7 linked regions of the Homo sapiens genome follow. The protein of the gene in region 1 purifies or fractionates together with the protein of each later gene. This does not show direct contact. Each region holds a gene or a part of one and is shown in the gene's direction. Other genes may lie near its edges.

Evidence for each region.
Region 2: the proteins of SCAP (region 1) and SPTLC2 purify together in Homo sapiens (affinity purification with mass spectrometry; one large-scale study listed by BioGRID and IntAct). This does not show direct contact.
Region 3: the proteins of SCAP (region 1) and TAP2 purify together in Homo sapiens (affinity purification with mass spectrometry; one large-scale study listed by BioGRID and IntAct). This does not show direct contact.
Region 4: the proteins of SCAP (region 1) and CLCN3 purify together in Homo sapiens (affinity purification with mass spectrometry; one large-scale study listed by BioGRID and IntAct). This does not show direct contact.
Region 5: the proteins of SCAP (region 1) and TRIM9 purify together in Homo sapiens (affinity purification with western blotting, with the first as the bait; one study listed by BioGRID). This does not show direct contact.
Region 6: the proteins of SCAP (region 1) and PIGA purify together in Homo sapiens (affinity purification with mass spectrometry; one large-scale study listed by BioGRID and IntAct). This does not show direct contact.
Region 7: the proteins of SCAP (region 1) and PCNX3 purify together in Homo sapiens (affinity purification with mass spectrometry; one large-scale study listed by BioGRID and IntAct). This does not show direct contact.

What each region holds. Positions count from the first base shown.
Region 1 is NC_000003.12:47,469,442-47,472,941, reverse strand, and holds part of SCAP (sterol regulatory element-binding protein cleavage-activating protein), read left to right. Parts: intron 1-1,426; exon of another isoform or gene 1,427-3,500. UniProt on the Homo sapiens protein: Escort protein required for cholesterol as well as lipid homeostasis.
Region 2 is NC_000014.9:77,610,138-77,613,637, reverse strand, and holds part of SPTLC2 (serine palmitoyltransferase 2), read left to right. Parts: intron 1-3,500. UniProt on the Homo sapiens protein: Component of the serine palmitoyltransferase multisubunit enzyme (SPT) that catalyzes the initial and rate-limiting step in sphingolipid biosynthesis by condensing L-serine and activated acyl-CoA (most commonly palmitoyl-CoA) to form long-chain bases.
Region 3 is NC_000006.12:32,828,740-32,832,239, reverse strand, and holds part of TAP2 (antigen peptide transporter 2), read left to right. Parts: intron 1-1,433; coding exon 1,434-1,622; intron 1,623-1,799; coding exon 1,800-1,973; intron 1,974-2,150; coding exon 2,151-2,310; intron 2,311-2,703; coding exon 2,704-2,840; intron 2,841-3,205; coding exon 3,206-3,334; 3' UTR 3,335-3,500. UniProt on the Homo sapiens protein: ABC transporter associated with antigen processing. In complex with TAP1 mediates unidirectional translocation of peptide antigens from cytosol to endoplasmic reticulum (ER) for loading onto MHC class I (MHCI) molecules.
Region 4 is NC_000004.12:169,690,078-169,693,577, forward strand, and holds part of CLCN3 (H(+)/Cl(-) exchange transporter 3), read left to right. Parts: intron 1-452; coding exon 453-575; intron 576-2,036; coding exon 2,037-2,243; intron 2,244-3,500.
Region 5 is NC_000014.9:50,980,106-50,983,605, reverse strand, and holds part of TRIM9 (E3 ubiquitin-protein ligase TRIM9), read left to right. Parts: exon of another isoform or gene 1-184; coding exon 185-226; exon of another isoform or gene 227-324; intron 325-640; coding exon 641-664; intron 665-1,106; exon of another isoform or gene 1,107-1,283; intron 1,284-1,502; coding exon 1,503-1,806; intron 1,807-3,500. UniProt on the Homo sapiens protein: E3 ubiquitin-protein ligase which ubiquitinates itself in cooperation with an E2 enzyme UBE2D2/UBC4 and serves as a targeting signal for proteasomal degradation.
Region 6 is NC_000023.11:15,325,524-15,329,023, reverse strand, and holds part of PIGA (phosphatidylinositol N-acetylglucosaminyltransferase subunit A), read left to right. Parts: exon of another isoform or gene 1-710; coding exon of another isoform or gene 711-803; intron 804-2,977; coding exon 2,978-3,110; intron 3,111-3,500. UniProt on the Homo sapiens protein: Catalytic subunit of the glycosylphosphatidylinositol-N-acetylglucosaminyltransferase (GPI-GnT) complex that catalyzes the transfer of N-acetylglucosamine from UDP-N-acetylglucosamine to phosphatidylinositol and participates in the first step of GPI biosynthesis.
Region 7 is NC_000011.10:65,629,276-65,632,775, forward strand, and holds part of PCNX3 (pecanex-like protein 3), read left to right. Parts: intron 1-81; coding exon 82-140; intron 141-244; coding exon 245-460; intron 461-1,075; coding exon 1,076-1,329; intron 1,330-3,500.

The sequences.
Region 1 (3,500 bases):
CGCCTGGCTAATTTTGTATTTTTAGTAGAGGCGAGGTTTCTCCCTATTGGTCAGGCTGGTCTCAGACTCCCGATCTCAGGTGATCCGCCCGCCTCGGCCTCCCAAAGTGCTGGGATTACAGGCGTGAGCCACTGCACGCAGCCCACAGTCTTTTCTGTTGCTCATTGGCAGGTAAGGGTAGTGGAAGAAGGTGGTAGGGGTGGTGGGAGGAAGCCAGCGTCACTGACTCTAGTGTGGGGATGGTGGAACTCAGCAAGAAGGTGACAGCAATTTGACCACTGCCATTTGACAGTTTCTGCTTAAGCAGTCAAGGGCACTAACCTAGAATGGTTGCAGGGATGCTAAATCATAAGGAAGCTTTGCAGTGGGGTCCAAAGTTGGTATGTAAGCATAAAGATGCACGTGGATCTCAGGAAAAAAATAAAACTAATTTTCCTGTTTATTTCAGCTTCATTTAATTATTATTATTATTATTATTATTTTATTTTATTTTTTTTTTTTGAGACGGAGTCTCGCTCTGTCGCCCAGGCCGGACTGCGGACTGCAGTGGCGCAATCTCGGCTCACTGCAAGCTCCGCTTCCCGGGTTTACGCCATTCTCCTGCCTCAGCCTCCCGAGTAGCTGGGACTACAGGCGCCCGCCACCGCGCCCGGCTAATTTTTTTGTATTTTTAGTAGAGACGGGGTTTCACCTTGTTAGCCAGGATGGTCTCGATCTCCTGACCTCATGATCCACTCGCCTCGGCCTCCCAAAGTGCTGGGATTACAGGCGTGAGCCACCGCGCCCGGCCCCATTTAATTATTATTATTATTTTTTTGAGATGGAGTCTCACTCAATCTGTTGCCCAGGCTGGAGTGCATTGATGCTATCTTGGTTTACTGCAATCTTGGTCTCCTGCCTCAGCCTCCCGAGTAGCTGGGATTACAGCTGTGCACCACCACACCTGGCTAATTTTGTATTTTTAGTAGAGATGGGGTTTCACCATATTGGTTAGGCTGGTCTCAAACTCCTGGCCTCAAGTGATCCACCCACCTTAACCTCCCAAAGTGCTGGGATTACAGGCATGAACCACCATAATAATTTTTATTATGTACTTTATAATGTACACTGTATTATCACTGTAGTACATATATAATTTATATGTAAGTGTACATGTATTGGGAGCATATACTTGAATTTTTGTTGTTGGGCATTCATGATCAAAACATTTGGGAACCAGTGGCTTATTTGATATTTAGCATTTTCAGAAAGCATAAAATATACAAGGTGTTGGCCAGGCACAGTGGCTCATGCCTGTAATCTCAGCACTTTGGGAGGCTGAGGAGGGTGGATCACCTGAGGTCAGGAGTTCGAGACCAGCCTGACCAACATGTGTGAAACCCCGTCTCCACTATAAATACAAAAGTTAGCCAGGTGTGGTGGCATGCGCCTGTAGTATACCTCTAAGTATACTAGAACTATGTTGATGTTTTCCTCTCTCTGCCTTGGCCACTAGGAAGCTCAGAGTCAAGTTTGTATCCAGGGTCTTCCAGCTTGTGCTTAAGTGTTTTAATCGTCTAGATTGTTTTTAATGGTTTCTGCTCTTTGTCTCAGGTTTTACTATAAAATACATAACACATTTCCTTCCCGTTCTAAATATTACTGTGATTGTATTCTTATAGCCAAATCTTTGTTCTTATTCTTATTTTATTTTATTTTTTATACTGTTGAATCCCTCTGAGCCTTGCCTTTCCCTGCCTCCTCTTCTGTACTCATTTTTGCTAAAATTTGTAAGGGGATAAATTCTTGAAAAGCTTTGCACATTTTGAAGACTTGTTTGTTTTTTAATATTTATTATAGTAAAACTCAAATATACATCCAAATAGAGAGCAATAAGCCCTTGTGTACCTATCACTCAGTTATGTCTGTCACTTAGTCATTAACTTGGGGACACTCTTGTTTCATCTATATCCTTTAATCCTCATTATACTTTTTTTTGGGGGGAGAAGTTTATTAATTGATAGGTGTTACTTTGGGGTAAATGAGGAGGGAGCCCACTAGTATGCTGGGGAACTGGTAAGGTTTTTTTGTTTTTTTCTTGAAACAGAGTCTTGCTCTTGTCGCCCAGGCTGGAGTGCAGTGGTGCGATCTCGGCTCACTGCAACCTTCGCCCCCCTGGGTTCAAGCGACTCTCCTGCCTCAGCCTCCCAAGTAGCTGGGATTACAGGCACCTGCCACCACACCTGGCTAGTTTTTGTACTTTTAGTAGATGGGATTTCACCATGTTGGCCAGGCTAGTCTTGAACTCCTGACCTCCGGTGATCTGCCTGCCTCGGCCTCCCAAAGTGTTGGGATTATAGGCGTGAGCCACTGCGCCCCGCAAAGGTTCTTTTCTTTGGGATCCTTTCCTGTCCTTAGAGAAGACCCTTTAGCTTTCTGCCTGAGGAGCTGATGCCTAGTTGTCAGGCTTTCTTCTTGCCCAGATAAGGGTGTTAACTCCTGTGTACAGATGTTCACTTAATCCTTTTTACCAGTCCCACATCTCACTATAGCCCTATGCTACACCTGGGTTTCTCCATCCCAAGCCCCTTTAGGGTCTCTAGTGCCAGTCTTCTTCCTCATTGGCTATGTCCCCTAGGTTCTTTTTTATTTTTCCCAACGGTGATGCACTTACTGAGCAGATGCAGTAATCTTCTTACCTGAGCCTACATATAACCATTGGCCTAAATGTATGATGGTTTGCCAGCATCAGCAATAAGACTGGTAATGGGGTAAAAAACAAGTTCTCTTAAGGCTAGCTCTTGATCCCCTGTTGTAAGCTGACCAACTTAATCTGAAAATAATTTGCAGCATGTAAATATTTTAGGATTAGAGCCATCTGTATACACACTTAAAAGTAGTTTTGCTACCATTACATTAGTCTAAAAGAGTTACCTAAGAATGCCAAACGATATTTTGTTCGAATGCCTTGGTTATTTTAATTTAAAAGCATTTCTTTCAAAACCGCTTCTCTCTTCACAATAGTAGAGCTGTGGCAGTGAACTAAGAGGTCAAGGATTCAGTGAATCTGTGGCTAATTTCTTGTTCCAATCTGAGAGCTCTCTTTGCACTATGATCAAAATGGAGTCTTGCCAACTGCCCAGGGTAATAGCCTTGCAAGTCTCTTCCTTGTTGAGCAATGAATATAAGTTCCACATGGCTGGGGAGGCCTCACAATCATGGCAGAAGGTGAAAGAGGAGCAAAGGCATGTCTTACATGGTGGCAGGCAAGCCTCTTCTCATTATACTTTTAAAATTATTTGGTGGCTGGGTGCAGTGGCTCATGCCTGTAATCCCAGCACTTTGGGAGGCCAAGGTGGGTGGATCACTTGAGGTCAGAAGTTCAAGACCAGCTTGGCCAACATGGTGAAACCTTGCCTGTACTAAAAATACAAAAATTAGCAGGGTCATGGTGGCACGCACCTGTAATTCTAGCTACTTGGGAAGCTGAGGAAGAATTGTTTGGACCCAGAGGTAAAGGT
Region 2 (3,500 bases), on another chromosome or scaffold:
AGAAACGTCTAGGATCACTTTACACTCTCAAGAGTATGTTTCTGTGCTTGAAGAGATGAATGAATGTGTATAGTAAAAGAACAACTCTTGGATTTGGGTTTAGAATTTGATGAGCTAGATGCTGTGTTAAGGAGTTATGAAACAATCACACATTGCTGTTTAGTGATGACAGTAGACACACAGTTTTCACAATAGTAACAGTTGAACAATAGAGCAGTAATTTTTCCTCTCTGCTATTCAGATGAGTGGGAGGAGCACAAACCTTTATTTGAGGTAAGGTGTGGCAATTTGCCCGAGGGAAACTTTTACATTAGCATTGGAAAGAACCTTTGGGAGTTTATTTAATTCAGTCCTTTATCTCTTTGTAGGAGTTTATTAAAATCAGTCTTGATAGAAAATTCTGTACTGTTTTTAAAGATCTCCAGGGGATTTGCAGCAAGTTTTTCTCTATAGCAAATTGGATTATTATTCCATGATCTTAATTACCAAATTTCTTCCTGTGGATTTAACATTTGATGAAATAAATGCCATGTTTTGGTTGCACCTGAAATATAGTAGTTTGTTTGTGTGTTTGTTTTTAAAACTTCACGTTAACAGCTCTTTTTAAAAGAGCTTCCATTTCTTTATAGAAGTTTTGAGATTTAGGTTTTCCTTTTACTTTCCTGAGTTAGTTAATAAGTGTGAAAGAAAAAAAGTTATCTACCTTTGAGACAGTTTTGACCCTAACTTTTTTCCCTTTGGGTGTAGTTTTAATGAGATATTAGAAGGATGAGAGCTCTCTGGCTTACAGAATAAAAAATTCTATCTCAAGGAATTGGGGCAAAAGTTGTGTTCTTATGTTAAATAATAAGCAAAGTAGAAAGAACAAAGTGTTAGTCTTGCTTCTTAGGAGGAGGCAAATAAATAACTAATAAAGCTGGTTTACTAAATAGCTACTAGCTTTTGTTTCCACTGAGGGAGAAACAGTAACTGGGGGTTTATATGTGATAGTTAAGGAAAAGGAGACGATAGTTATGAGGCTAGAACAGTAGAAATAGTTAGAATAGTCATATATCTATTTAGATTTAGCAGATCCTGATAAGATACCTCAGATACCTGAAGGCTTTTCAGAAATAATGTAATTTACAACTTGGAGGACAAGATTTTCATTTCAGTTTTCACTCTAAGGGGAAGCATATCTTGATTCTTACATAGCTGCATCTGAAGAATTCCAGAGTTATTTGAGATACTCAGGAATTTTCTTTAACAGGAATTCTTGGGAAATGTGTAAGCAGCTATGTTCTTAAGATAGTATTTTAGAACTAGGATGTTCAGAAAAGTCAGACTTGCCCACTTTTTAGGGTTTGCCCATGTGCCATAGAAATTTGCACCGCTTTGAGCAAGACAGTTAATTGGTTGATTTAATTAGATTCAGTTTTTGGAAGAAAGAAGCAGTGTTTATTGGTAGAATAGGCAATTCAGAGGGATGGGTAGAGGCACTGTTTGCATTCTGAGTGGGTGTGCCATACTTGATTAAATAAATGGTTTGTGGACTCAAAGTCAGTTCCCTTCTGGGTAGTTTCTGAGAAGCTTCTGTAATATAATTCACAATTTGTGACCGATAAAAAAGTAAGTCCTTTGCTCTTGACCCATTTACTGTTAGAAAATTTATCTTAAGTTTGTCTTTAAGACTACTTTTTATTGCAAAGCTTGAGGCAGCTATTCTTCCTTTTTTAAAAAAATAATTTTTACTTCTCATTATAGAAATAATACATGTTTAATGTGGGATCATAAAACATTGAGATAATCTCTGCGTTAGGTTTTTTTTTTTTTGAGACGGAGTCTCACTCTGTCGCCCAGGCTGGAGTGCAGTGGCGCCATCTCAGTTCACTGCAGCCTCCACCTCCCGGGTTCAAGCGATTCTCCAGCCTCAGCCTCCTGAGTAGCTGGGATTACAGGCATGCGCCACCACGCCTGGCTGATTTTTGCATTTGTAGTAGAGACAAGGTTTCACAGTGTTGGCCAGGCTGGTCTCGAACTCCTGACCTCAGGTGATCCACCTGCCTCCGCCTCCCAAAGTGCTGGGATTACAGGCGTGAGCCACCACGCCTAGCCGGAGGTTTGTTTTTTAATGTGGTCTATTGTAAATCCATCTGCTACTTTCCGTTAATTTCTTTTCTTTCTTTTTTTTTTTTTTTTTGGCGAGATAGGGTCTCGCTCCAGCCTGGCCTGCAGTAGCACAGTCATAGCTTACTGCGGCCTCAACTTCTCGGGCTCAAGCGATCCTCCCATCTCAGCCTCCCAAGTAGCTGGGTCCACAGGTGTGCACCACTACAGTGGGCTAATTTTTTTTTTTGAGACAGAGTCTTGCTCTGTCACCCAGGCTGGAGTGCAGTGGCGCGATCTTGGCTCACTGCAAGCTCTACTTCCCAGGTTCACACCATTCTCCTGCCTCAGCCTCCCGAGTAGCTGGGACTACAGGTGCTCACCAACACACCCGGCTAATTTTTTTTTTTTTTTTGTATTTTTAGTAGAGACAGGGTTTCCCCATGTTAGCCAGGATGGTCTCGCTCTCCTGACCTTGTAATCCGCCTGCCTCAGTCTCCCAAAGTGCTGGAATTACAGGCTTGAGCCACCATGCCTGGCCTTTTTTTTTTTTTTTTTTTGTAGAGATGGGTCTTACTATGTTCCCCAGGCTAGTCTCTTTTTTACTTAAACAAACAAACAAAAATAAATAAAAATATATATATATAAAGAGAGAGGGAGACAGAGAGAGAGGGAGACAGAGTCTCACTATGTTGCCCAGGCTGATCTCAAACTGTTGGGTACAATCGATCCTCCTGCCTTGGCCTCCTGAAGTGCTGAGATTATAGGTGTGAGCCACCGCACCCAGCCACCCAGGCTGGTCTCAGACTCCTGACCACAAGCATCCTCCTGCTTCAGCCTACCAAAGTGCTGGGATTACAGCCACTGTAGCAGACTATTTTGTGATAATTTCTAAGTACAGTGAAATATGCGGTTGTACTGATACTATGGGTGTGATCCAGTCTTACTCCAAAAAATAGGTATTAAGGGCTGGGCACAGTGGCTCATACCTGTAATCCCAGCACTAAGGGAAGCCAAGGTGTAAGGATTGCTTGAGCCCAGGAGTTCAAGATCAGCCTGGGCAACGTGGCGAGACCCCATCTCTATTTAATTAAAAAATAATAAGGTATATGACCAGGTACCGTGGCTCACGCCTGTAATCCCAGCACTTTGGGAAGCCGAGATGGGCGGATCACTTGAGGTCAGGAGTTTGAGACCAGCCTGGCCAACATGGTGAAACCCCGTCTCTACTAAAAATGTAAAAATTAGCCGGGTGTGGTGGTGTGTGCCTATAATCCCAGCTACTCTGGGAGTCTGAGGTAGTAGAATCGCTTGAACCCAGGAGGTGGAAGTTGCAGTGAGCCAAGATGGTGCCACTGCACTTCAGCTTGGGCGACAGTGAGACTCTGTCTCAACAAAACAAAACAAAACAAAAC
Region 3 (3,500 bases), on another chromosome or scaffold:
CAATACAAAACCAAAACCCGCAAGTAATTTTGCTATGGAGAATTTTAAACATATGCCAAAAATGAGACAAAATAATATTACAAACTCACATGTATACATCCTGTGCTTTAACAATGATCAACTCATGCCCAATCTTGTTGGATCTGTATCCCCAGCCACTTCCCCCCACCCATATTATTCTGAAGCAAATCCAAGATATTGTATACTTTCATCTGTAAATATTTCAGTATGTTTCTTAAAAATACAAACATCTTTAAAAGTGTATAACAACAAAGCCATTATCACACCAAAAAATTAACAGTAGTTCTTAAAATTTATCAAATAGTCAATTGTCAAATTTCCACTTGTGGTATCCATGTAGTATATGTGTATGAGTGTGTTTATTATACTTTGCTTAAATCAGGATCCAGAAATGGTCCACATATTGTGACTGGTTGATACATCTTTTAAGTCTGTCTGTCTATCTATCTATCCATCCATCTATCCATCCATCCACCCATCAATCCATGTATCTGTCTAAAAGTTTCCCTTGCACAGTTTATTTGTTGAAGAAATAGGTTGTTTGTCCTGTGGAGTTTCTTAGGGTCTGGATTTTGTTGACTGAATCCCTGTGGTATTATATGCTCTTCTGCCTCTGTACTTCCTGTCTATTGATAGATAAACCTAGAAGCTTGTGAGATTGAGGGGTTTTTTTTGGTCTTTTTCCAGCAACAGTACTTTTTAGGTGGTGATGCATTCTTCCTCCAAGAGGCACACAATGTCTGGTTCTCTATTTGTGGCAACATCAGCCACTGATGAGCAGTACCTACATCCATGACAGAATTAGGGCTGCAAAAGGGAGATACTCTATCATTCTTCATGTATTAGCTGAAGTAGTCTATGAAGGGAGACTTCCCCTCATCTACCATTTCATTACCCGGTGGTACAGTTTGATGAGGAAAGGCAGAGTGAGCATTTAGATCTCTTCCTACATTTACCAGTTCTCAAAAACAGCTACTTCATCCAGGGCTTTATTTAAACATTTTCCTAGACACTTGATAAACATCTTTTTTGTGTAGAGAACTGCGCTGGGCACTCTGACGGCTACAAAGGTGAGTTGGGCACAGTGCCTGCATTTAAGGAGCTCCCCGTCTAATCAAGCAAGACAGAACTGGGCACAAGTAATAGGAAGCAGTAACTGAAAAGATCTGGGGCTAGAGGCAATGCTGTATGGTAGGAGAAGGGACTGTATATCCTTTATATTGCAAATTGGAACACTGGGGTATTGGTGCCACTTTTAAATTCCGTCCAAATTGTACATTTAAAAGTGGAGAATCTCTTTTGAGTATGGAGGAGGAGCAGTGCAGTTGTGAGTGGAGTGTGTGAGGAGTTGGGAGGGTGGTTTCTGGTAGAAGTGTGTTTAATTAGCCGGCTCTCCCATTCCTGTTTTCCAGACCCTGGTATACATATATGGGGATATGCTCAGCAACGTGGGAGCTGCAGAGAAGGTTTTCTCCTACATGGACCGACAGCCAAATCTGCCTTCACCTGGCACGCTTGCCCCCACCACTCTGCAGGGGGTTGTGAAATTCCAAGACGTCTCCTTTGCATATCCCAATCGCCCTGACAGGCCTGTGCTCAAGGTGCCTGAAAGAGGGAGGAAACCTGGACCCTTGCTCTCTGCTGCTAATGCATAATTGGACATCACAGCCTATAGTTCATTTGCCTCTGAGAACCTGGTCTTGCCTCTGCTAAGAAGAGAAATGGAGGGATTTTGAGGGAGAAGGGGCAGGCCCTTAACTCTTTTTCTGGTTTTCTAGGGGCTGACGTTTACCCTACGTCCTGGTGAGGTGACGGCGCTGGTGGGACCCAATGGGTCTGGGAAGAGCACAGTGGCTGCCCTGCTGCAGAATCTGTACCAGCCCACAGGGGGACAGGTGCTGCTGGATGAAAAGCCCATCTCACAGTATGAACACTGCTACCTGCACAGCCAGGTGGGTGAGGAGGGAGAAGACAGGGGACAGGAGAGGGGAGCATGTACAGAGAGAGGATGGGAGATCCACGGGAAGGCGCACCAGGTGTTCATTCTGAGGGAGGTAGGTGGGGAGGACAAAAGGGCCCCTGCCTTGGGGGTTTACACATAGTCCTCTGCCCCTGTCCCTGCTGCACAGGTGGTTTCAGTTGGGCAGGAGCCTGTGCTGTTCTCCGGTTCTGTGAGGAACAACATTGCTTATGGGCTGCAGAGCTGCGAAGATGATAAGGTGATGGCGGCTGCCCAGGCTGCCCACGCAGATGACTTCATCCAGGAAATGGAGCATGGAATATACACAGGTATCTTCTACAAATTGTAAGCTTGCTCCTTCAGTAAAAAAGAGAAAATCAGACTTACTCTTAGTGGTGAAGGTCGTGTCCCTGTAGCTTGATGTTTGCTGTTCCTCTGCCCTTTCCTCCATTCCTACGTCTCCTTCCCCACACACTGAATTCTTCAGCCTCCCTCTTGATCAAGAGTCTTTGTTTGCAGAGAGCAATGCAGCAGTGGTGCTCCCTCCGTGGGCAGCCCCGTCAGGTCCCCACCCCATGGCCCTCCTCCCACTGGGCCCTCCCCGCACTGGGCCCTCCCACCTCCCGAGGTCCTACTGGAAGTACCTGCTGTGCACTTGTCCCTCCTTGTGTGTTGTCTGTGTCACTTGTATCTGAGGAAGGGAATTTCTCTGATTTCCTCAGATGTAGGGGAGAAGGGAAGCCAGCTGGCTGCGGGACAGAAACAACGTCTGGCCATTGCCCGGGCCCTTGTACGAGACCCGCGGGTCCTCATCCTGGATGAGGCTACTAGTGCCCTAGATGTGCAGTGCGAGCAGGCCGTGAGTACCGTGAGAGGGCAGGGGACAGTGGGGCCTGGGAGGGGCATGCTGGGAGGATCAGACTGTGCAGAATTGGGCAGAGGGAGGACGAAGGACCTACTAGTGGAAACAGTCTGTGCCTTCTTGGGGTTGGGGAATGGAATCCGGTGGTGTGAGGGCAGCCCCAGTTCCCTCCTGGGCTTCCATTCCTCCAGCTGTGGCAGTACAGCCGGGAGAGAAGGGCAGTCCAGGCCTTTATCTACTGCCCTTTCCTACCTTCTTTTATTTCACACCTTCTTTACCCTAAATCATAAGAGATGGTGCCCAGGTGGATGTGGTGTCCATCTCATTCCTGTCTTTCTGAGGCACTGTGATCACCCCTTCAGCTGCAGGACTGGAATTCCCGTGGGGATCGCACAGTGCTGGTGATTGCTCACAGGCTGCAGACAGTTCAGCGCGCCCACCAGATCCTGGTGCTCCAGGAGGGCAAGCTGCAGAAGCTTGCCCAGCTCTAGGAGGGACAGGACCTCTATTCCCGCCTGGTGCAGCAGCGGCTGATGGACTGAGGCCCCAGGGATACTGGGCCCTCTTCTCAGGGGCGTCTCCAGGACCCAGAGCTGTTCCTGCTTTGAGTTTCCCTAGAGCTGTGCGGCCAGATAGCTGTTCCTGAGTTGCAGGCAC
Region 4 (3,500 bases), on another chromosome or scaffold:
TATTATTGTGGAAATAAACCAGGAGACTTTTACACATTTTACTGAAGTTTCTTTTCTTTCTTTTTTTTTTTTTTTTTTTGGCCGGTGGGATGGAGTCTCACTCTGTTGCCCAGGCTGGAGCGCAGTGGCACGATCTCGGCTCCCTGCAACCTCCGCTTCTGGGGTTTAAGCGATTCTTCTACCTCAGCCTCCCGAGTAGCTGGTATTACAGGCGTGCGCCACCATGCCCAGCTAATTTTTGTATTTTTAATAGCAACGGGGTTTCACCACATTGGCCAAGCTAGTCTCGAACTCCTGACCTCAGGTGATCCACCCGCCTCAACCTCCCCAGTGCTGGGATTACAGGCGTGAGCCACCATGCCTGGCCGTTTACTGAAGTTTCTTATGACAAGCATTTGCATTAGAGGTGCAATGTAAATTAAATTCATACTCTCGAACTATTTTCTTTTTAGGGTCCTGGTTCTTATATCATGAACTACATAATGTACATCTTCTGGGCCTTGAGTTTTGCCTTTCTTGCAGTTTCCCTGGTAAAGGTATTTGCTCCATATGCCTGTGGCTCTGGAATTCCAGAGGTAAGCCAAGTAATATTTAGTGTCATTAAACATTATTATGATGCTTATCTTTTTGACCTTAGTGATAATAAAAGTTGGCTTTTCTGGAGGGAGGGGATAGTTTGTTCATAATATGAAAAAAAAATTTTTTTAAGTATAAGCTGATGGTAGACATCATTGAAAAATATTGTTCCCCATAGTCATTTGGTCATTTACTGTGAAGGCTGATTTTTTTTTTCTCTCACCACTAATTTAACACATGACTAGGCAAATTTTCAGACTATTTAGTTAAACATCAAGAGCCTGGAAGAAGTATCTTGTGACCTAATGTTCTTTGACGGGTTAGTTGTTACTTTGCTGTTATGACCCTGAATTTTTTTTTTTTGAGACTGAGTCTTGTGCTGTCGCCCAGACTGGAGTGCAGTGGCGCAATCTCAGCTCACTGCAACCTCTGCGTCCCAGGCTCAAGCAATTCTTGTGTCTCAGCCTCCTGAGGAGTTGCGATTGCAGGCACCTGTCACCATGCCCTGCTAATTTTTGCATTTTTTTGTTTGTTTTTTTTTTTTAGTAGAGATGGGGTTTCACCATGTTGGCCAGGCTGGTCTCAAACTCCTAACCTCAAGTGATCACCCGCCTCAGCCTCCCAAAGTGCTGGGATTACAGGTGTGAGCCACCACACGTGGCTATGACCCTGATTTTGATTCATTCACTTTTTATAATTACCTTTTGATTAGATAAGTTAATTATTCTTGAATTTGGCCATTTTATGCTTTGAGAAAGTAGTTAATCACAGTGGGTCAACAGTACAAACTTTTGGGTTTTATTTTTCATCACAATAAAGTAGAGTTATACATAGGATTGATTGAACTTGATTTGAACTTATCTCTTCTCTTTTATTTTTCTGTAGTTAAATAAGTTACCAACTTTTTCCTAATACATTTCTTTTTAAAATGGAATTGTATTGATCTTTAAGTTTGTATTAAGAATATCTTTCATAAAAAGCAATATCATGCAGTATATAACAGTTGTTACTCATTCTTGATACATAAAAAACTATTGCACATAATTACAGTACTCAGAGAAAACATAATATTCTTATTTCTAACATAATGTCCAAAATATATTTAAAATATTATGCTTATTTTTACAACAGAAATATTCAAATTTGCCCTTTTTTTGGTTATGTAATTATAATCCTTATAATTAAGGTCTGTATTCATTTTAACATGGCCTGATATTTTGATTTTGTTCCTGAGATAGTGTTGCCCTCTCTCCTTTCTTGGGTAGAGAATTAGATTATAATATCAATTTATTATATGTAGCATAATAGGCAAAGTTTTCGAAAAATTAACTGTAAATTTTTCTGTAGACTGCTAAAATTTGCAAGGTTGTTTTTGTGCATAAAACAAGAAAATAACTTGGATTCGTTACATTCTCATGTTTCTTAAAGGACATTAAGCTGCCTTAATCTTTGCCTTGTAGATTAAAACTATTTTAAGTGGATTCATCATCAGAGGTTACTTGGGAAAATGGACTTTAATGATTAAAACCATCACATTAGTCCTGGCTGTGGCATCAGGTTTGAGTTTAGGAAAAGAAGGTCCCCTGGTACATGTTGCCTGTTGCTGCGGAAATATCTTTTCCTACCTCTTTCCAAAGTATAGCACAAACGAAGCTAAAAAAAGGGAGGTAAGTGTCTTTTGTAGTTAATTTGACTGAAAAATATATATTATATAGTATTTATTTAAGTAAAGAATTTCTTAGTGTAAAAATAATAAATTCTGTATTCAGATAAAAAATTTTGAGATTTGTGCTTCTGTTTTTCCTGAATAATCTATAACATCTTTCTAGAATCCATTCCCAGTGCTGCTCAGTTCGTCTTACATTTTAGAGAAGCTTTAGATAGACAGCTGGTGTCCATTGGGTTTCAGCTGCATTTCACGAAGATCTTCCTGTTATCACTTTACCTTACATCTTTCCTCTTCTGAAGTGTTTTCTAAGCTTAGCTTTGTTTTTCACTCTTACTTTCAACATTAAGAGGTTGGGAAATCTTAATAGCTATGTTTTCCTCCTGGAGGCAGTGTCTGGTGCCAGTGTAAGTGGTGTGTGATATGAAAAATGCTATCCAGTGCTATGGGGAAGTTCTGAGGGCCTTTAGAAGCTCTTGAAGTTTAAATCAGAAATTCACATTAAAGAGATTACAGGAAATCCTTTTCATTTGATTGTTTAAGGCAATTTCCTTTACCATTTCTTTAGGCCAGCCTGAGATCTTCTACAAGACCTTGAAACCTTATATATATTATGGATTTCCTCTGATGTTTCCATATTGCTCTGGGCATTTTCCTGAATCCTTTATATTAGCTCTAGACTTTGGGAGCCCAGTCCCTTCCTATTTTCCAAATCTAAATCTACAGCCCTAGATGGTACAGAGATCTTTGAGTTTTTAAGATATGATTTTTTGAAAAACATCTCATTAAATACTGGCAGAACCTTTTCATCTTGTTGAGTTTTTTAATGTACTGTAACCAAAAAAGTAGAATATTTTATCAAACTGTTTAATCTTCAATTGAAATAATTCTAGTACATTTTAATGTTCGCATTAAAATATTGTCCTTGCATTGGACGTAGATATCCCAAAAGTGGAATACTTCAGATTGTCGTAGTTTCATCTCTGAATAATTGTGATTCCAGTACTTTATAACAAAAATAGCTAGCATTATTGATTACTTTCTGTGTATCTGGTACTGTGGCAGATACTTTACTTGGATTTTAATACTTAATTTCACAGTAATTTAGTAATATGGCCCTGTTATCCTCATTTAGTGATTAGTAAACTAGGGCTGAAAACAGCTAACTAACTTGCCCGAGACTACATACCTAGTAAGTGGTGGAACGTAGGTTAAAATTCATTTTTCTTTGACTTCAAAGTCTGTGGTCTTACCTACT
Region 5 (3,500 bases), on another chromosome or scaffold:
CATTTTGAAAGAGCAGAGGGGCAGTTTTTTACCCAACAAACTAAATAATATAAAAAGGGCTTTGTTTTTTCATGGATCAGGCCTCTGGTATCTATATTCAACTGGTGCTTTTTAAGCGTATACAAGTAATTTTTATCAACCTGGTTGTTGTTTCATAGCGTTGATGTGTAGTATCTCTTTATAGGATGCAATTTTGAGACACAATCTGCACCTTACTCTCAATTAGGCAAGTATACCTATTGTAATTATCTTTTACTTACGTGATTGGTGTGCTCAATTTCCTTCACAAAATAAATGGCGGCAACTTGTCTTATGTCAATAAAATTGTCTAATTGTCATTCTAACCCTATTATAGCAGTTTCTCAAACTCTTAAAAAATGGAAAAGATGCCTGTAGTGTTTAATGTTATGCCTCAAACCTTACTTTTCCCCCAGTTTTCTTTTACATCAGTGCAAAGCACTCTTTATGAGCACTAAATGTGGGTAAAGGTACAAGTCAGAGAGCACCTGTTTAGTATATGTGGCATTTTAAATTGAGTCCTTTTGGGGTACTAGTCTATCAAGAGAGACACATTTTCTTATCCATGTCAATTTTGCTTCCTATCTCTCTCCCCCATGCCTTTCACTTGGAATGACAACAGTTGACATTAAAAAGCTGTTGGCAGGTATGGAATAACCTTATTCTGTTACCAAATAGCAAAGACCAAAGTGCATGTGAGGTGTCTCACAGGTTTAATAAATCAGCAATTACATCTCTCGAGTGTGATATTTATAGGTGGCATTTAGAACTTGGGGCGTAACAATGCGTACAAAGACATCATTCTATCTGCACCTAATGTCCGAAATTCCTACTGCTCCAGCAAAATTTCTGACGTGTTAGTTTCAGGAGTAGCACGCAAACTGTGTTTTTTAAGTTATGCAGACAGCAACCTGTCCTACATGCAAGTCACAATCACTCATGAAAATTAGTTTATGTTGCTTATAGCTTCGCAGCTTGTGAGCTTTCACTAGAGCCGAGGAAGACTTCAAAGCGACTAGATGTTAGCACTTCTGCCGAAGGGATATTTCCTGATTTCACTCCATGTGTTTTATCCCTCCTCCATCTAGGACTCTAGCTCCTAGCCTCCCCGCCTCAGGGGTTACACAGGCATCTTAGCGCATCCCCTCTCCCTTTATGTCTCTGGTGCACTGTTCTGCCAGTCACCAGGTGAAGGGACTTGCACCTTCCAAAATCGATGCCACTTCACTCCCGGATCACCTGGTTGGGAGTGCAGTCTGAGCCAGGTAACCCCTGCTGAATCGGTCGTGTGTCCTCCGTCTGCTTCTGGTGCAGAGAGTACCAACTCCCAGGACGTGCCCCTGTCTGCCCTGGCCCTGGACGCCTCCTTCCTGCATGGCAGCATGAAAACGCTACACAACGCTCCTCACCCGCCCAGGAGTATGTTATGGTGCTGAGCTTGTTGGGTCTGTCTTAATAACCTGATTCCCTTCTGTTGTTCCCAGTGGCCTGGTTTGCTTTCGACCCTGGCTCGGCGCACTCGGACATCATCCTCTCCAATGACAACCTGACAGTGACCTGTAGTAGCTATGATGACCGGGTGGTGCTAGGGAAGACTGGCTTCTCCAAGGGCATCCACTACTGGGAGCTCACGGTAGATCGCTATGACAACCACCCTGATCCTGCCTTTGGTGTGGCTCGCATGGACGTGATGAAGGATGTGATGTTAGGAAAAGACGACAAAGCTTGGGCAATGTATGTGGACAATAACCGGAGCTGGTTCATGCACAACAACTCGCACACCAACAGGTACCCTGCAGCCCCCAAACCAAGCCTTCTTCACGTTGGCTTCTGATCAGGAGTGAGAGCCCCAGTTCAAAAACCTATTACATAGACCACATTCAGGAAATCAAACAGGTGGTCTACATTAAGTAGCACAGGCAATCTATGAGCCTCAGCTGAGTCCATGCTGGTGGTTTACTTTCTATATAATGATAGAGACTTGAGTACTTTCCTACTCCCTTCATTGCTGTATTTCACCCATGGCTGGAAACTAAGAATCCCAATGGATATCCATTATAAGAAAACAATCCAGGATGCTGAAACACCCAGACCTACAACTTAACAGAAAAGCACTTTTGGGCAAGTTACTTCGTTTTTTGAACCTCAGTTTCCAAATCCATCAAATTAGTACAATAAAATTTTTCCTTGTGGGAATCTTCTGAAGATTAAATGAAATATGTGAAAATGCCTTACATTGGAAGCACCTGAAAATAGTAGCCATTCTTCTTATTACGATTCATTAAACTAAAGCTTATGGATGCCAATTTGAATGGCTTTCTACTTATAGAGAACTCTCTTATTACTGTATTAATCCAGAGCAGCCAGTTTGCTAAGGAAAGGAAATACAGTAATCTCCTTGAGGTTTTCTTCTACCACCAAAATATAGATCATTATAATTGAACACATACTATAATGGATTTCCTTTCTCATTTGATTGTGTTCCTCAAATGTATTTTTCACAAATTTCCTAGGCAGAGAAATTTCTACTGTGGACCCTGGTCCACCTTATGCTCCAAGATTTCCCCAGGATACATTCTCATTAGTGTCTCTGAAAAAAAAAAAAAATACAGTAGTGTTCAACCAGATCAAAGGGAAAGCAAGTCAGACATTGGTAGGATAATTGGACCCCACTGTTTTATCTTTTTCTGTATGCTCATCACTGACCCTTCTCCAGCCTGTAGACTCCTAAAGCCTCCTTTTCCCTTGGATAGCTTCTATAGCATTCAAGTGTGTATTATTCGCTGTCACTTGAAGTGAACACACACACCATTTCACCATGAAAGCAAATCCTACTGGATGTAGATAAGTGGTTATCTTCAGTGATCGGCATTTTGTGGAACTCTCTGTCAATAGATTCTCAGTGCTATCACCCAAATGCCACACTTACTTTTTCCCTTTTAGCGTCTTTGTTTTGAAGTGCAGGAGTGAATAATGACATAACCATCACACTATGCAGAGAAACACATTCTTAATGCTGAACACATCTGCTTGCATGCAACCTGCATGTCACTTGTGCTTTCATTGTTAAACCTGTGAAGTAGCAAGAGGCAATTTGTAAACCTGTCTTTTAATGACTATGTACAGTCTGTATCCTGCATGCAAGAGGAAATGAATGACACAAATTCCTGTGCTCTGCTGAGATGAGGACGAAGTTCAATATTGCTAGATCTCAAAAAAATGGGAAAGACAAATCTGATCGTCCATTTTTAATGGCATTTTGTGAAACCATCAATTGAAGCATAAGACACAATTCTTTGTAAAATGGCATTTGTATGCAGGTTCTTTAAAATCACTACATCTCAGAGTATAATTATTTCACTGTACAGAGAAGAAGCCTCTTCTTCAGTGCTGTCATTTCACAGACAGCCTCCAAGTTCTTAATTCAAATGCAACAAGCCAAAAAACTGCTATCCTTCTGGAATGAGTTTTTCTGTTTAATG
Region 6 (3,500 bases), on another chromosome or scaffold:
CTTCATTTTCTGGTTTGAAGGCAATGACATGCTTTCATTCTTTAATCAGGAACATGTGAACCGACTGGCATTCTGTATTCTGAATTCCTCCTGGGACATTAGTGATGTGTTTTTTTGTAACTTAGGAATTGTACCTAATTTATTTTTTAACCAAATAGCATATCTTCTTGAGATGGCTAGCTGAGAAAGAGTATGACACAAGTGTGATCAAGGATCAGCAAAATTAACTACCCATGCAAAGATTAAACCTGTTACCTTTACTTCCCTAATGTGGTATTTTAACTAGCTGAGCTAACCACCAATGGAGTGATGGTATGGCCTTTCCTGTACTCAATTCAGTAATTGAACAGTTATTTATCGAACCCTCTCCAGATGCCAGGCACCCTGCAGAAAGTAACATTCTGAAAAGGAACAGCCATGCCTGTAGCCCAAAAGTGAGTAGTTGTATTAATGGTCCATTCCTTATTAACAAATTAATTTCCTCAGGAGTTTATTGGACCAGATATCAAAGTCCCACTGGAATGTCTTAAGTGAGAGAGAGGATAAATCAAAGTTTTCCTTATCCAGGCTTTTTGGATGTCTTTTTCCTGAGCCTCCTCTTCCAAGCCTGTTTTGCTCTCAGTCAGGATTTACCAGCACTCTGCATGTGTAGGCACGCTCACCTGCTTCCTTCTGTAGTGGTAATGACAACCTACATTTGTATTCTGCAGTTGATAAAGCCTGTTCGTGGTACAATACCTCATTTGACCCTCCCAACAACTGTAGGGTAGATGTTATCTACATGAAATTGAGTCTCAGAGAGGGTAAGTAACTCACCCAGGTTACACAGTAAGTAACAGAGATGACACACGAGTTCAGCTTTTCTGGAGCTAAGTTCTCCTCTTCCTCCACCCATGCCCAGCCACTCATATCCTAGGTGTAGATCAGAAGGTTCTTAAAAATATTGTTAGACTGAGCTTTAAAAGCAGTTTGGATCAGAGATTTTCATTGTCTGTTTTGTGTTCACATGGCAGTCGAAAGTCTCTAGGTTCCATTGCATTATACCCTTCTTAGAGGCTCCAGAATAAATTTTTTTATAGTGGTGGGGAAAAGCCCTTATTCTTAGAATAAGAATATAGATCATTGGTAATAGTAATCAGTTCCATTTCTTATGAGATACTTGTCAGGATTAAATGACATAATGAATTTAAAGTATATTGCCTGTCATAGCAAGCACTCTGTTACTGTTAGCTATTATCATTTATGACTATTGCTCTATGTTGTTTTTTGTTTGTTTGAAGAATGGGCTCTTAACCTTGTACGAGAAAGAAAAGGGTGAGGAAGAAAATGGATTGAAGGAATTGTAGGAGACTAAATGTTAAAAGTCATTAAACTACCTTCTGGTTTATCTAGAAATCCAATTGAGTGATTTGTTAGTAGACATGAAACAAAGATAGCTATGATTTTAATGAGAAGCCTTCATATTCAGAAAAGCTGCGTGGGAATTTTTGATACATACAATAACAGTTTGAAAGTACTAGCAGAGTTTACTTAATGAATTCTACTTTGTATTATTTAATAAAAATGACCCTATAATATATATGTCATTTCTCCTATTTTATATCTGATATAAAATATCATCTATTTTATAACTGATCTGCCTATTTGGGGTGGAAGATTAAGAAATACAATTCTTATGTGTGTGTGCATTTTTAAAATTAATAAACTTAGCTCTAGGTGGATTATTTTATATTTACTTTTACTTTTTTTTTGTTTTTTTTTTTTTGAGACGGAGTCTCGCTCTGTCTCCCAGGCTGGAGTGCAGTGGCGCAATCTCGGCTCACTGCAAACTCCGCCTCCCGGGTTCACGCCATTCTCCTGCCTCAGCCTCCGGAGTAGCTGGGACTACAGGCGCCCGCCACTACGCCCGGCTAATTTTTTGTATTTTTAGTAGAGACGGGGTTTCACCATGTTAGCCAGGATGGTCTCAATTTCCTGACCTTGTGATCCGCCTGCCTTGGCCTCCCGAAATGCTGGGATTACTGGGATTACAGGCGTGAGCCACCGCGCCCTGCCTACTCTTACTTTTGAATATGTACGTTTTGTAATTGTTAATGAACTAGATTCTTAAATAGTGTTGACATTGTTGGGACTTTGGATAGCCACTCACTTTTTCAGACTAATAGGGCATAATTTACTTTATTGTTTTCTATTACCTGAGATTGTGTTTATATATTATAAGAAAATCATTTTGGAGAAAAAAGGAGCCAAGATGCATCCTTTTGTTCTATGGACTGTAGTGATCTAACAGTTGATGCCCTGCTGCCTTCATTTACCCTCATTCCAGGAAAGTGGGCTATAGCTGGTTTGAACTTAAATTTTGCGATAATGTAGTGTTCACTGCAAAATTCTCTGTACCAGCCACATTTTAAACAAAGTGGAGGCAGCAGTTAGATTTCGTTGCTTAGCCTTTTCCTGTGGCAGTAAGTGGGATCACAGACTGATAGAATTTTATAGCTGAAAGAGACTTTAGGTACATAGGTATCTTTATTTTATAGATCTTGAAACTTCCCCACGATCAATGGGCTTGCTGGTTAAAAAAGCTGGGAAAAGACCCAGATCTCCAATCAGCTGCCTGCTCTGGAGAAAACGAACTCAAACCTTAGCCACCTTAAATATACCTTTTTTAGAAGTACGCAATGTATAAACACAAGTGAATAACTTAAAGAATAGTCTGTTGAGATGAAACAGAATAGTCCATATTTTGGGTGTGTGGAAGGTAATGCATGTCAAGGTCTACGTCTTCAAGAATTGTAACTCTTGGGGGACCACTGCCAGTTTGCAAACAATTCCACTCCTGGAAAAGGTTTAAGAGAGTTTCTCTCCTTTATGGAGTGCATAGCTAATACTTTTCAAAATAAGTGGATTCTCAGTCGTTCTGGTGAATTTTTTTAAGTTTAAATATTAATATCTCCAACATTCAACTTTATATTTTCAGGGATCGATTTGCTTAGTGGTATAATACCTGAACTCTGTCAGAAATATCCAGATTTAAATTTCATAATTGGAGGAGAGGGACCAAAGAGAATCATTTTGGAAGAAGTTCGGGAAAGATACCAGCTGCATGACAGGTATTGATGAATTTCATGTTGTCTTGAGGGAGAAGATGTCAATTATCTCTATTTGGTTTTAACTGCATGCGTACCTTAGGTGTGTTGCTTCTCCTGCATGTAATTGATATACATATAATTGATATAAATCTAATGCAAGGACTGTTTTCAAAATTTTTATATAAATAGGAAACCTAGTTAATTCACTATTTTTTCCATTAGCCCAATATTATTTGACTTTGGGGGGCCATTGTTGGAGGCACCATGAAAGGCACAAAAAACAGCTGCTTTAACTGGAAGCGTTTGCAGATTTCCAGGCCATACTGTGTAGTGATTTAAGTAATAGGGCTCAAATCATGTAAATTGCTCTGCACATACAGATTTGGACAAGTCTCTTCCTCAGTAACTTAC
Region 7 (3,500 bases), on another chromosome or scaffold:
GTGGCACAGGGAGAGCATGAGCAGGGTGCACCCTCTCTTCACCTTCTTGGCCAACCGCCTTGTTGCACTCTCTCTGAACAGCACTAAACGTGTGGATCATTCCAACACCCGCCTGGTCACACAGCTGGACAGGAACCCTGGTGTGTACCCAGCCATCCAAGGGGCTTTAGGGCAGGGCCTCCCTGGGGAGGGAGCCTCGCTAACTTGTCACTTTGTCCATTTGCCCGTCTGTTCTGGGTCTTAGGCGCTGATGACAACAACCTCAACTCCATCTTCTATGAGCACTTGACACGTTCGCTGCAGCACACACTGTGTGGGGACCTGGTGCTGGGCCGCTGGGGCAACTATGGCCCTGGTGACTGCTTCGTCCTGGCCTCTGACTACCTCAACGCCCTGGTGCACCTCATCGAGGTTGGCAATGGCCTCGTCACCTTCCAGCTGCGTGGCCTTGAGTTCCGGGGTGAGCCGCAGGACCAGGCTCGGGTGGGCAGGCACAGCTCGGGCCTGATGTGGGAGCTGTGTTCAATAGCACGTGCGAAGGAGGTCCAGTCCAGCTCTGTCCAGGCTGGCGGGTGGCCTTGGGCAAGGCACTCCTCCTCCCTGGGCCTGCGTTTCCCAGTCTGAGCAATGAGGTGGCAGGGTCTCTTGGCCAAGCCCTGTGCCTGCCCCAACTTTAGGTCCCAGTGACTCTACAGGTCACTGCAGTGAGGGCCTGGGCCTGGAGGTCTGAGTTCTCACACCCAGCCTGCTCTGTGGTCTCAGGCTTGGCCCATGGGTTGGGCGCCATGAGTGAGCCAGCTCCTTCCTCTCAGGAAGACGTGTGTGTTGGATGCCCGAGAGTGCAGAGGGGCCAGACCGTGTCCCTGCTCCCTCCCGCCCTGCCCTTGGATGCTGGGAGTTGGGAGGAGAAAGGCAGGCGCTCTTTCGTGAATCTTGGCATCCAATAAGGTTGACTCCCCTGGCGTCCAAGGGGGTGAATGGCAGCAGGCCTCTGATGCCATGTTGGTCACTCTCCCAGGACAGGGCAGGTAGGGATTGTTCTAGCAGCCCCTGACTGCACACCCCTCCTCCACAGGCACTTACTGCCAGCAGCGCGAGGTGGAGGCTATCACCGAGGGTGTGGAGGAGGACGAGGGCTGTTGCTGCTGTGAACCTGGCCACCTGCCACGGGTCCTGTCCTTCAATGCTGCCTTTGGGCAGCGCTGGCTGGCTTGGGAGGTAACAGCCAGCAAGTACGTGCTGGAGGGCTATAGCATTAGTGACAATAATGCTGCCTCCATGCTGCAGGTTTTCGACCTCCGCAAGATCCTCATCACCTACTATGTCAAGGTACGGTGGGCAGGTGTGGCCGGGCAGCAGGGCCCTTGCGGGTGAGCGCTCGCTGACCAGAGGCCCCAGTACCCCCTTTCTGGGTTGTTGGGAGCCTGTTTTGTCCAAGGGAAGCTGAGGCCTCAGAGAGTTTAAGTGTCCCCTGAGGTGCCACTGCCAGACCTCAGGTTGCAGGGGCCTCTGTGCCCATATGGCTCTGATAGGTGCCCAGGCAAGGAAGGCTTGCTTTGGGCAGTGAGTATGGGGCAGGTGGGCAGTTGCAGAGGCCAGCCTTTGAAACCACCAGCCCCTGCCCCCAGCTCACCCAGCACAGAGCAGTGGTAGAGCTAACAGTTGTCACGTTAACGATCATCATGGGAGCAGCTGCTTGAGCAGTAACATTTACCACGGGTGGGCGCTATGCTGGGCATCTCTCCTGAGCTGGGTGGAGTCCCCCACCCTTTGAGAGGGGCCCTGCTATCTCACAGATGTGGAAGTTGGCTTGCAGAGGTTCCAGAATCTGAAGAAAATGGCCAAGCCAGGCCTTGAACCCAGGCTGGCCCTGAGCCACAGAGCTTTCCTGCCTTAGCCTGGGGGCTCTGAGCCAGGCCTGAGGATCTTGAGACCTCTTGGGGGTGGGAGGGGGTTGGTGAGGCAATGTGGGGTACATAAGGAGCCCTGGAATGGGGGTTCTGATCAGCCTGGAATGTTTCTTCCCTGTGTCCCTCAGCTTACCCCTTGAGAAGTGGGGGTTATTGCAGTTCTCTGAGATGGCAGAAATGTTGAGGCTTGGCCAAGCGTGGTGGCTCATGCCTGTAATCCCAGCACTTTGGGAGGCCAAGGCAGGTGGATCACTTGAGGTCAAGAGTTTGAGACTAGCCTGGCCAATGTGGCGAAACCCCATCTCTACTAAAAATACAAAATAATTAGCCGGGTGTGATGGCGGGCACCTGTAGTCCCAGCTACTTGGGACGCTGAGACAGGAGAATCACTTGAACCTGGGAGGCAGAGGTTGCAGCCAGCCGAGATCGTGCTACTGCACTCCAGCCTGGGCAACAGAGCAAGACTGTCTCAAAAAAAAAAAAGGAATTTTGAGGCTTGTGGTGCTCAGAATAAGCGTACTGGGAGTGGGGTGGCCTGCTGATCACAGTGCAGGCTCCCACGTGCCTTCTTAGGATCTACCCTGGTGCTCCCTATGTTGGGCTCGGTGGGTGGCCTACTGGGGCCCAGGTGAGCCTGCCACCTAGGTTCTCTCTGGAGTAGTTTCACGAGGCCCTGGCTGTCCTTCTCCAAAGGAAATCCTGTCCACACCACATATCAGAGGAGCTGTCATTTGTCATTCCTTCTGCCCTCCCAGCCACTCCTAGGCAAGGATTTGTGAGACCACCCCCCTTTCATCAAGAAGGAGGCTGTGTCTAGAGAGGGACATTCCCAGTCCCAGGTCACCGAGAGGTCATGGCCTGGTCCACCTTCCGGTCCCATCTTGAGAGAGGTGCCCTTGCCCAGGTTGCCCTGCTGTGCCTGCTAGGCTAGGGCCAGCAGGTTGAGATGCACCTGGCCAGGTCTCTTGTCCCATGGGGAAGCTGACTGGCCACATCTAAGGCTGCCTCAAAGGCTGGGCAGAATTTGAGTCTGGAGGAAGTGCTTGGAGGACCTGGGGTGGCTCCGCTGAGGATGTGGACTGAGGGTGAAGCTTGGAAGGACAAGTCAGGGCTGCCAGGGGTGGGGCGGGGGGAGGCGGGTGTGCTGGGGAGCCTGGTGCATCTGGGGAAGTGTCCCAGCTGCAGGGATAGGTCCTTTCCAGCCTTCGAGGTTGGCCAGTCGAGGCGGAGCCCCTCCCGTTAGCTTTGCCCTTCCCGTGGGAGTTACTGGGCTCTCAGACCTGCTTCTGCAGCTGGGAAGGGCTACAAGAGCAGGAAAAGGCACCGTGGCTTGAGGCTGCACGGAGTCTGGGCAGTGCTTCCCGGGAAGTACCTTGGGCAGAGCCCAGCTCGCAGTGAGCGCTCACAGGCGGAGCGGCTGCTGGTATTGCCCCCCGTCTTCATTTTCTTCCTAAGATGACCGTGAGTGTTGTGTCAGAGAAAAGGATGGCACTGGTGAAGGTTAACCAAGCACCTGATATGTGCCAGGCCAGCTCCTCTCCCGGTCCCTGAAGCTTTTCTTTTTTTTATTTTTTTTTGAAACAAGGTCTC